Homo sapiens: one gene and its partner. The protein of the gene in region 1 interacts with the protein of each later gene in a biochemical or structural test. Each region holds a gene or a part of one and is shown on either strand. Other genes may lie near its edges.

The links.
Region 2: the proteins of CPAP (region 1) and CEP152 form a complex in vitro, tested with the Homo sapiens proteins (one study listed by IntAct).

Annotation. Positions count from the first base shown.
Region 1 is NC_000013.11:24,881,772-24,884,894, reverse strand, and holds the end of CPAP (centrosomal P4.1-associated protein), read left to right. Parts: intron 1-101; exon of another isoform or gene 102-192; intron 193-431; coding exon 432-572; intron 573-649; coding exon 650-734; intron 735-811; coding exon 812-932; intron 933-1,525; coding exon 1,526-1,718; 3' UTR 1,719-2,616; downstream 2,617-3,123. UniProt on the Homo sapiens protein: Plays an important role in cell division and centrosome function by participating in centriole duplication. Inhibits microtubule nucleation from the centrosome. Involved in the regulation of slow processive growth of centriolar microtubules.
Region 2 is NC_000015.10:48,766,056-48,773,095, reverse strand, and holds part of CEP152 (centrosomal protein of 152 kDa), read left to right. Parts: intron 1-404; coding exon 405-609; intron 610-1,806; exon of another isoform or gene 1,807-1,876; intron 1,877-2,923; exon of another isoform or gene 2,924-3,811; intron 3,812-4,014; coding exon 4,015-4,140; intron 4,141-4,767; coding exon 4,768-4,877; intron 4,878-5,632; coding exon 5,633-5,761; intron 5,762-5,903; coding exon 5,904-6,036; intron 6,037-7,040. UniProt on the Homo sapiens protein: Necessary for centrosome duplication; the function also seems to involve CEP63, CDK5RAP2 and WDR62 through a stepwise assembled complex at the centrosome that recruits CDK2 required for centriole duplication.

The DNA of each region.
Region 1 (3,123 bases):
GATATATACAGGTTAGAGGTGATGAGGGAATTTTTTCCTCAGGTTTATGGAAAATTTACTTTTCGAATACCTAATCTGGTCCATTTCTATTGAAATTATAGGGTTGGAGTGCTATCCTTGAGGAATGAGAGAAGGACAAAGAACAACAGGCAAAGCAGTAGTTAGACTTTCCTGTACAAAGTCTACTTTAGGGTAACAAATTGTTGATAAGGGAAGGTTTTCTTTTTTAGGTAAATTCCAGCTAATACATGGAAAAGGAATGAGAAAATTAGAAAATCACGAGTTTGCTACTCCTCACGAAATAAAGGATCTTTTGAGGGAATGTTTTACATTTTATTACAAAAAATTTCAAAGTAGGCAGTTGGGAGGAGAATTAGCCATACTTTCGTCAGGAGAAAATCTTAGGTGATAATCTTGTGTTGGTTTTTTAGGTGGAAAAGGTTTATAAGAATGGGTGCCGTGTTATACTGTTTCCCAATGGAACTCGAAAGGAAGTGAGTGCAGATGGGAAGACCATCACTGTCACTTTCTTTAATGGTGACGTGAAGCAGGTCATGCCAGACCAAAGAGTGGTATGTTTCCAGAGGTGTTCTCCTCCATAGTTTAACCATCTCTGGAGAAAAGGCAGACTGACTGTGTGTCTTTACAGATCTACTACTATGCAGCTGCCCAGACCACTCACACGACATACCCGGAGGGACTGGAAGTCTTACATTTCTCAAGTGGACAAATAGGTACAAACTTGCTCCACCCTCTCATTAAATTCTTCCCTTCCTTCAAAAAATATTTACTGTAACAACTTTTTAAACAGAAAAACATTACCCAGATGGAAGAAAAGAAATCACGTTTCCTGACCAGACTGTTAAAAACTTATTTCCTGATGGACAAGAAGAAAGCATTTTCCCAGATGGTACAATTGTCAGAGTACAACGGTATGGCAACATTATGTTCACAGAAAAACCACTCAGTGTGACACCTGTTCATCTGTGCTCAGAAGGTGCCCCAGCCTTGCGTTTCTGATGATATGTGACACCCATATTAGGGGGTTCAGTTTGAATGAATGTCCCACAGGCATGTCAGTCAACTTGATGTGAATTATTTTTCACATTCTCCTTTTTTGTTCCATTCTTTCAAAACAGATTTTTAAGTCTGATCATGCCCCTTCCCAGGAATAACTAACTCTCTTCCCCACCTGATACAGAGCAAACAAACACTCAGATGGTTTTTAAATTAGTGAAAGAAGGGTCCCTTTTAATATAACAACCAAAAGGAAGAACACAAGTTGAAAAAAGTTACTAAGCATTTTGTGATGAAAATATGAATGATTAAAACAATGCTAATCTGATAATTGGAACTATCACCATGAAGCAGAAACACTGTAGAAAGTTACAATTGTATAGGGATAACCAAGGGATGTCTCCAGAAGTAGCTGCCAGACTCAAAAGGCTACTTTTCAGTAGTTTTTCTGTTGTTTATTTTCTATTATTTTTTTTTTAAGAAATCATATTTTTTTTAAATTTTACAGTGATGGCAACAAACTCATAGAGTTTAATAATGGCCAAAGAGAACTACATACTGCCCAGTTCAAGAGACGGGAATACCCAGATGGCACTGTTAAAACCGTATATGCAAACGGTCATCAAGAAACGAAGTACAGATCCGGTCGGATAAGAGTTAAGGACAAGGAGGGTAATGTGCTAATGGACACGGAGCTGTGACGATCCTCATGTGATCATGAAGTAACAGTAACTGACTTTTTATGTTAAAAAATGTACATTTACTGTGGATTCTGTTTAATTTATTGTGTATGTGTGGGGAAAAGATTAGATTCTAAAATAAAAGTTTACCCTGTGGCATCTTCATTTTTATATTCTTTGAAATGCAATGATAGCTCTCATTTATAATTCACTACCCTGTCTTTCAATAGACTAAGGAAAGCATTTTGACTGTTTAGAAATTGTGTACAGGTTTTTACAGTAAGTGGGTGTGTTTATTGGTTAGAAATGGCTATAAAAAAAAACCAAGAAGTACAGGAAGTACATCACCTAGATGTCCCACAGACACATCAGCCGTAGAGCACTGGACTTGTACAGAAGGTGTACTCAAGGAGTAAACACGTGTCTCTGTAGCCAAAATATTACTATGTTCAGTTAGTACCAAAATTAGACCATTTGATCTTCTACAGAGGATCATTAATTATTATAACAGAATGGGAAGTTACAACAGTGGATGAATATAAATAGGTCACACACAACAGGTAGTAATCATGGTGAAGAGAAAGCAGTTATAACAAGGCTGACTTTGTAATGTAATGTCTCAAAATGGGATACTTGAGAGTGGAGGGGGGCATGAACGATGACTAGCCAGTGTTAACCCATGGACCACAGCTACCCTGATGTTACCACAGTGAGATTACTGTAGCCTCATGGAAGCAAGATGTCCCTGAAGGATGGGCAAGTCACTTACTTACTTACTTGTAAATTTATATAATAAATAATTACAGATTGGTCTAGATAGACCTTACCTGTCACATATACTATGAATCAGGTTTTGTTAATGAAATCTATCAATTCCAGGTGACTTAACTGAATATGAAAAATAAAACTTTTTGAAGAATATAAGTACAGATGTATCTATATATAGATGTATCTATATATCTATCTATATAGATGTATCTATATCTATCTATATAGATGTATCTATATATCTATATAGATGTATCTATCTATATAGATGTATCTATCTATATAGATGTATCTATCTATATAGATGTATCTATATATCTATATAGATGTATCTATATATATAGATGTATCTATATATCTATATAGATGTATCTATATATCTATATAGATGTATCTATATATCTATATAGATGTATCTATATATCTATATAGATGTATCTATATATCTAGATGTATCTATATATCTAGATGTATCTATATATCTATATAGATGTATCTATATATCTATATAGATGTATCTATATATCTATATAGATGTATCTATATATCTATATAGATGTATCTATATATCTATATAGATGTATCTATATATCTATATAGATGTATCTATATAGATAGATATCTAGATATATAGAGACGGGGTTTCACCATGTTGGCC
Region 2 (7,040 bases), on another chromosome or scaffold:
ATAACAGAAATTGTTGGTTAGGATGGCTAGTGTTTAGTATTCTTTTCTTCCTTAATATTTATGTTGTTTCTGTTAGAGTCATAAAGGGCATGTATATACAGCATGCAGTTTTCCAATAACACAAATGTAAATTATGTCAAAGTTCACATTTCTAAGCTACTTACAGTGAGCAGCAGGACTAAGCTTGAGAAGGCTCTTCCTGTGAATAAACGTATTTCTGTATATAGAGACATGGCAAAGGTGATAATCCTTGTGTATGACAACATTTAAAATTGTTTTGAAATACTAGTATATAATTGTATAGGTGACAAAACATGTTCACCACTGTGGTCAGTGCTTTTAGGGAATAACCATGTCTGATTTATTACTTGATTTAATGTTAAAAATCACAATTTCTCCATTAGCATTGTACAAGAAGAAGACCCAAATGAAGAGCTTTCAAAAGATGAGTTCATTCTGAAGTTAAAGGCAGAAGTACAGCGTTTGCTGGGTAGCAACTCAATGAAGCGTCATCTGGTGTCTCAGTTACAAAATGACCTCAAAGACTGTCATAAGAAAATTGAAGATCTCCACCAAGTGAAGAAGGATGAAAAAAGCATTGAGGTTGAGGTATGTAAAGCCTATAGAGTTAAAAAACCATTTTTAAAAGGCTCAATAAAGAAAACTTTTACACTTTTTTTTTTTTGAGACAGGGCGTCACTCTGTCTTCCAGGCTGGAGGGCAGTGGTGGAAACATGGCTCCCTGTAGCCTCAACCTCCCAGGCTAAAGCGATGCTCCCACCTCAGCCTCCTGAGTAGCTGGGACCACAGGCGCACGCCACTATGCCTGGCTAATTTTTAAATTTTTTGTAGAGACAGGTTCCCACAATGTTGCCCAGGCTGGTCTCAAACTCCTGGGCTCAAGCAATCCTCCCACCTCAATCTCTCAAGGTGTTGGATTACAGGTGTGACTAACCACATCCAGCCCTTTTACATGTTTTTAAATTAATAAACCTTTGGCTTTCAGGAGTTTATTTGACATTTTTAGAAATAAAGTTTAAAGAAGGAAATGCCATTTTTAAAGGGATACTGACAGTCCCTGACTTAGGATGGTTTGACTTACAATTTTTAGACTTTACAGTGGTGGAAAAGTTATGTGCATTCAGTAGAAACCATATTTCAAGTACCTGTAAAACAGTTCTGTTTTTTACTTTCAGTACAGTGTTCAATAAATTTCATGAGATATTCAACAGTTTATTATAAATGAAGCTTTGCATTAGATGACTTTGCATAACTGTTGGCTATTATAAGTGTTCTGAGCACATTTAAGGTAGGCCAGGCTAAGCTATGGTTTTAATAGGTTAGATGCATTAAATGCATTTTTGACTTAATGATATTTTCAACTTATAATGATTTTATTAGGTGATAAACCCATTGTAAGTTGAAAAGCATCTGTATGTTTTTTCTGGTTACTCTTGGCACCTAGTAAATGAGATACCAATTAGGTAAAATTCCTTTACCATAAATACAAGGAAGTATTCTCTGTAACAAGGAATCTGCATTTCTTTAAGATTGGCTTTTACCAATAGTGCTCTAAAATCTAGTTAAAATAAATCCTCCATAGAAATCCTGTAGTATTTTCTATGAGATTTTCCTGGCCCATGTTCTTACAACAAAAGTCATTCTATATGAGGACATTAATTATATAGTGATGATGGTACAGATATTATATAGTGGTCGTGGTACTATGGGAAAGTACACAAAATCTGGTTTTGTCAGTCATTGAAATCCACCTCTGTATTCTTCAGTTCGGAAAATGAAGCTGGAGCACTTTGTGACACTTTTGAATTTACAGAGCCAATTTCAGACAAATTGAAACTAAACACATGACTAATAAGTAAGTCAAAGATATTTCTGTAAGATCATGCTATCACAGAGATCTTTAGGGCTGCTCTCCTTTATAGATCCTTTTTTTTACCCTTCCATATTTCACAAATCATCAGCCATCTATACTCCCAATAGAAAATAATATATAAAACACCTAATAACTAAGAAAAGCAAAAGAAGAGGGAAAAGGAATGTGGGTAGTATACTCCTTTTCCTCCTGGGTGGAGATAATTGTTTACTTCCTTCTTTAGTACTGTTTTATCTCCTATTTAAACTAGGAGTTGTGTTCATTAGAACAGTTCTGCTAAAGTATGTATAATATTCTGTGCTAATTATTGTGGAATTTTGATTGTGGTTAATTTTTATATTTTGGAAAAACAGTGTTTTTGCTATCAAAATCTTTTCCAGCCTGATTCCCTCTTCTGAGTAACTACATTTGATGACTAAAACATAGATTTTAATATTAACAGCAAATGAGAGAGACTCCTCCCCGCCCTGCCCCCTGCACATTTAACATCTTTAAATCAAGCTGTTTTCATTGTTGCCCTACATTTCTTTAAAAGGATGGGAATGAAAGCTTGTTTCTCAATTTGCATTAAGACATTAGAGTTTATTAGTTTAAGCATTTTGGTGGGAGTGCTCTAGGATTTAGGATACTAGAAACCTGATTTTGAGTCTGAACCTTAGCTCAGATATCTTGGTGCTTTCTTTGTTCTGTATTAAACTTGCTAATGGCATTTGCTATACAGATACACTTTATCATGTGTAGCAGTAGATAGTGGTCATGCATTGTACTGTTTTTTAGCCTTCCCATTTTCCTCTGTAGTCTGGTTGATCAATAGATCAAAGGAATAACTATCTCATCTTTGAGTATTCTTTTTGTCCAGCTACTCTATTGCCATAGTGAATTCTCGGTAGTGTACATCTAAACTCCAATTTTTCTCAAAGTTACTTCAGCTGTGGACTCAAGTGATCTGCCCACCTCCACCTCCCAAAGTGCTCGGATTACAAGGATGAGCCACTGTGTTGTGGCAAAGAGCTCAGAGTCCAGGTACACAACAAGTGAAACGGAGTAGATATATTTTTAAAATCTTTGTAACCCCCATCAATGAATAAAAAGAAAAGTAGATAAGGAAAACTCTCAGAGGAAAATATGCAAAGTTAAATGAACAGATAAATCTGGGAAGGTGGAAAAACAAATGAACAATGAAGGTATATAAGAGGTTCCACTTTGGTGGTGACACAAGAAATACAAATGAAAGCAATTGTTAGATATTCTTTTCCCATCAAAGATAATTATTTAAAGATAATCACTGCCATTGGAGGCAAAGAGAGATGGGCAGACCCATGTACTACCTGACAGTATACATTTGGATGACATTTCTGGAAGGCAATTCGCCAAAGTCTATCATGAGTCTTAAAAATTGTATGTATTGAATAAAATATATGTCCGTGAGTGAATGCTGACATAAATGAATACATACAGAAATAGAATAAATGCTTGATCTTAGTAGGAGAACATATGATGAGAAATAGGATATTTGTATTGTCTCAAAGTATCCTATAAGATACTTATCATTTATTATAAAACAAAAAATAGTAAGTTTACAATGGAGATGACAGATCCCACCTTCAATTGATTATTACCAGTGGTGAGACATAGTGATATCATGTGTCTCCTGCAAAGAGCACATATCAGTTCTTGACATGCATGCCAAAGATGCATAACCTGATTTTAATAAACCTAAAAACTCCAAATTGAGGAACATCCCACAAAATAACGGGTTAGTATTCTTAGAAAACATCATGGGTTTGAAAGACTGAAGAGCTGTCCTAGATTGGAGGAGACTAATGAAACATGACAACTAAATGCCACTCAGAATCATGGATTTGATCTTGGACCAGAAAACAGACATTTGGGGCAAATTGGAGACATTTGTATAAGGTCTGTAGATTACTTGATAGTATTGCATCTGTGTTAATTTACTAGTTTTGATGATTGTGCTGTAGTTATATTGGGGGAAGATGAGTAAAAGCTATATGGAGATTATTTGTACTGTTTGCAATTTTTTTAAAGTATGGAAGTATTTCAAAGTGAAACTTAGAATTTTTTAAAACTTGTAAAACTTTTGACCTTTTAATATTCAGACTAAAACAGATACCTCAGAAAAACCAAAGAATCAATTATGGCCTGAGTCTTCTACTTCTGATGTTGTCAGAGATGATATTCTGCTGCTTAAAAATGAAATTCAAGTTTTACAACAACAAAATCAGGTGATTAAAAATATTTTTTATATTTTATGAGAATTTTTATTTCCTCATTAAATACAAAGGATATAATAGAGTTTTTGCAAATAAAGAGGCAATGTGAGTTAGTAGACAAGTATATTAGCAGGTGATTATGAGTTCCAGTTACTTCCCTTTGCTAGTGAACTGTTGGTTAGTAGTTTCATTGGAAGGTAAGTTAGTGTAGTTCCAGTTCTCTTTCTCTATGGTAGCATGGCTGACAGAGGTATTCTTTCCTCCTTAGCCAGCTCTTGACCCAGAAGTAAAACTTTGCTTATTTAGATGGTTGCTGAAGATTATTGAATTCTGAGACTTATTTTAAGGCATCAGCTAGCCAATACTTCTCTGGTTAAATATTTTCATTTTATATATTTCAAAGTAAATACAAAATTTAAACGTTTAGTCCTGTCAGAAAACTACTTGTCAAATAAATGAATCTATGTTCTTATCAAAGCGTGAAGAGACTTTTTCTTTTGCAGAATTGTAAAAATAATATGTCAAATATTGTTATAGGGGAGAGAGAAAGCATAGAAAATATTAAAAAATAAGACAAAATCAATCAGTGAAAATGATGTTTATTTTCTGTAAGTACTAAGTTTATTCTTTTGTGTCTAGGAACTTAAAGAAACTGAAGGAAAACTGAGAAATACAAATCAAGACTTATGTAATCAAATGAGACAAATGGTACAAGATTTTGACCATGACAAACAAGAAGCTGTGGATAGGTAAGGTCTATATAGATGCCTGACGACTGTCTCCTGGGTACCCTTCCCCTCTAAGTCCCTGCCCTTCCCTGTGACAAAAAGATTCAAAATGATTGAGTGATTTCTACCCTGTTGAGATCTTGGATTGGCAGAGATGAGTCCCTGGCTTCTCAAATTAGAATTTGGAACACATTTTCCATAGAAACAGTGTTATGTAGTGGGTTGGGTTCTATAGTATCATTGAAACTGTAGTTCACTGAAATATTATAGGTTAATATTTTTTTAAAGACTCGTCTGGGAAACTATTCTTTATAAAGAAAAAAGTCTGTGAGAGGGAATATGTCTTCCAAATACCAAATCATAAACTTGGAAACAGACTTCTGGAACATAACTTACTTGTGAGTTGGGGACTGCTAGTATTTGTGTTTAATATAGATGACTTGAAATTTTGGAGCCACACCCTCAATTATTGCCATTAATTTTTTATAAACAGAAGTCCTCAACATAGATTACTATCTCTATTTGAAGGACTGGGGCAGTCTCACATCCAAGTTTCTAATTGTTCTCTAGAAACATTTGAAGAAAGAAAATTTTGAAGATTCTCATAAGATTGTTGGTTATTAATTAATTATTACCACTTTCAGTTGGGGAAAAGTTATCTGACCTCAATTATAATTTGCATTAGAGGGAAGAGGTGAGGAGGAAGGAAGGAAACCAATTCATTTTGGTGTTCGTAGTGAGACTGGGCATTGCCTTTGATTCCGCTCTGTTTCCAGGTGTGAAAGGACTTATCAGCAGCACCATGAAGCCATGAAAACTCAAATACGTGAAAGCCTATTAGCAAAGCATGCTTTGGAGAAGCAGCAGCTCTTTGAGGCTTATGAGAGAACTCATTTGCAACTGAGGTGAGAATAAAGAGTTTAGCTGCCTTTTAAGCTGTAGAGACTACATTCCCCTATTCCATAATTTAGAGGAAAATTGTTTGTTATGCAGCTCTTGTATTTTTTTGTGGTTAAATCATTTAGTTGCTGGTTTTGTGTATCCAAGGTCTGAGTTGGATAAGTTGAATAAGGAGGTGACTGCTGTGCAGGAATGTTACCTAGAAGTGTGCAGAGAGAAGGATAATCTAGAATTGACTCTCAGGAAGACCACTGAAAAGGAGCAACAGACTCAGGAGAAGGTACAGTACAAGTTTATGTTGTATCGACATCCTTTCACTCTTCAAGCCTCAGTATTATCATTTAAACGAATACATTTGTTCTAGAGAAGTGAATGGAGAAGGTATTCATATGTTCTCTTTACTTTTGGCTGTATCACACTCATATAGCTCACAAATAAAATACAGTAATTACTGAAATGATTATTAAAACCTTAATGTACAATGGCATATAGATAGGAGAAAGTGATTTTTTTTTTCTTGCAGATTTATTCTAAAGGGCAAAAAAAAAAAAAGGATCAGTGTCACTTTAAATCTGAAAATCACAGATCCTCATTTTCGGTGTTGACTGTTCAGGAAACCCTATGTAGTCCTGTGAGCGCTGCACGGAGCATTCGTTCAGAGCCCTTTTTCTCGGATCCATTTCTTTCTCACTACCTCATTGTCATTTTATTCTTCTGGGGAGAAGAGTAGGAATTTGAATGTTGGTCTCGTGATAGGGAAAGTGATGATATGGAGGATATGGACAGCAAGGTCAGCATCTTCGTATGACCTCCTTCAGGGAAGCTGGAGGGGCTAGAGTAGATTCTCCAACTCTGCCTGATTCTTCTGAGTCACTCTTGGTGAGTGTCCAGGAGTAAAATCACATGTAAACAGTCACACCTCCTCTTTTCTTCCCTGTCCTGGCCCAGTGCCTTAACAGGCCTGACTGTCCTTCACACTTTGGACCAGCGGCAAACCACAGTTTGAAAGCTATCTGCCTCAAGATTAGAAAATATTTTTAAATGCTTAAATAAATGTTCTATACAGAGGTTTTTGAATAAGTTATGTTAAAGCAAGCTATTACTACCACACACTTAAAAAGAATAGTAAAGAGCAGGCGAGGAATTCAGTTCATTCAATATCTTGATTATTGTTGAATAGATTAATATGGTGAAAAATGTGCCATGTATACATATCATCTAGTGGAAAAAGAACTTCTAAAGGGAGCTGTTTTAGGTAGGGATGGCAGTATAAAAGTGAGAAAG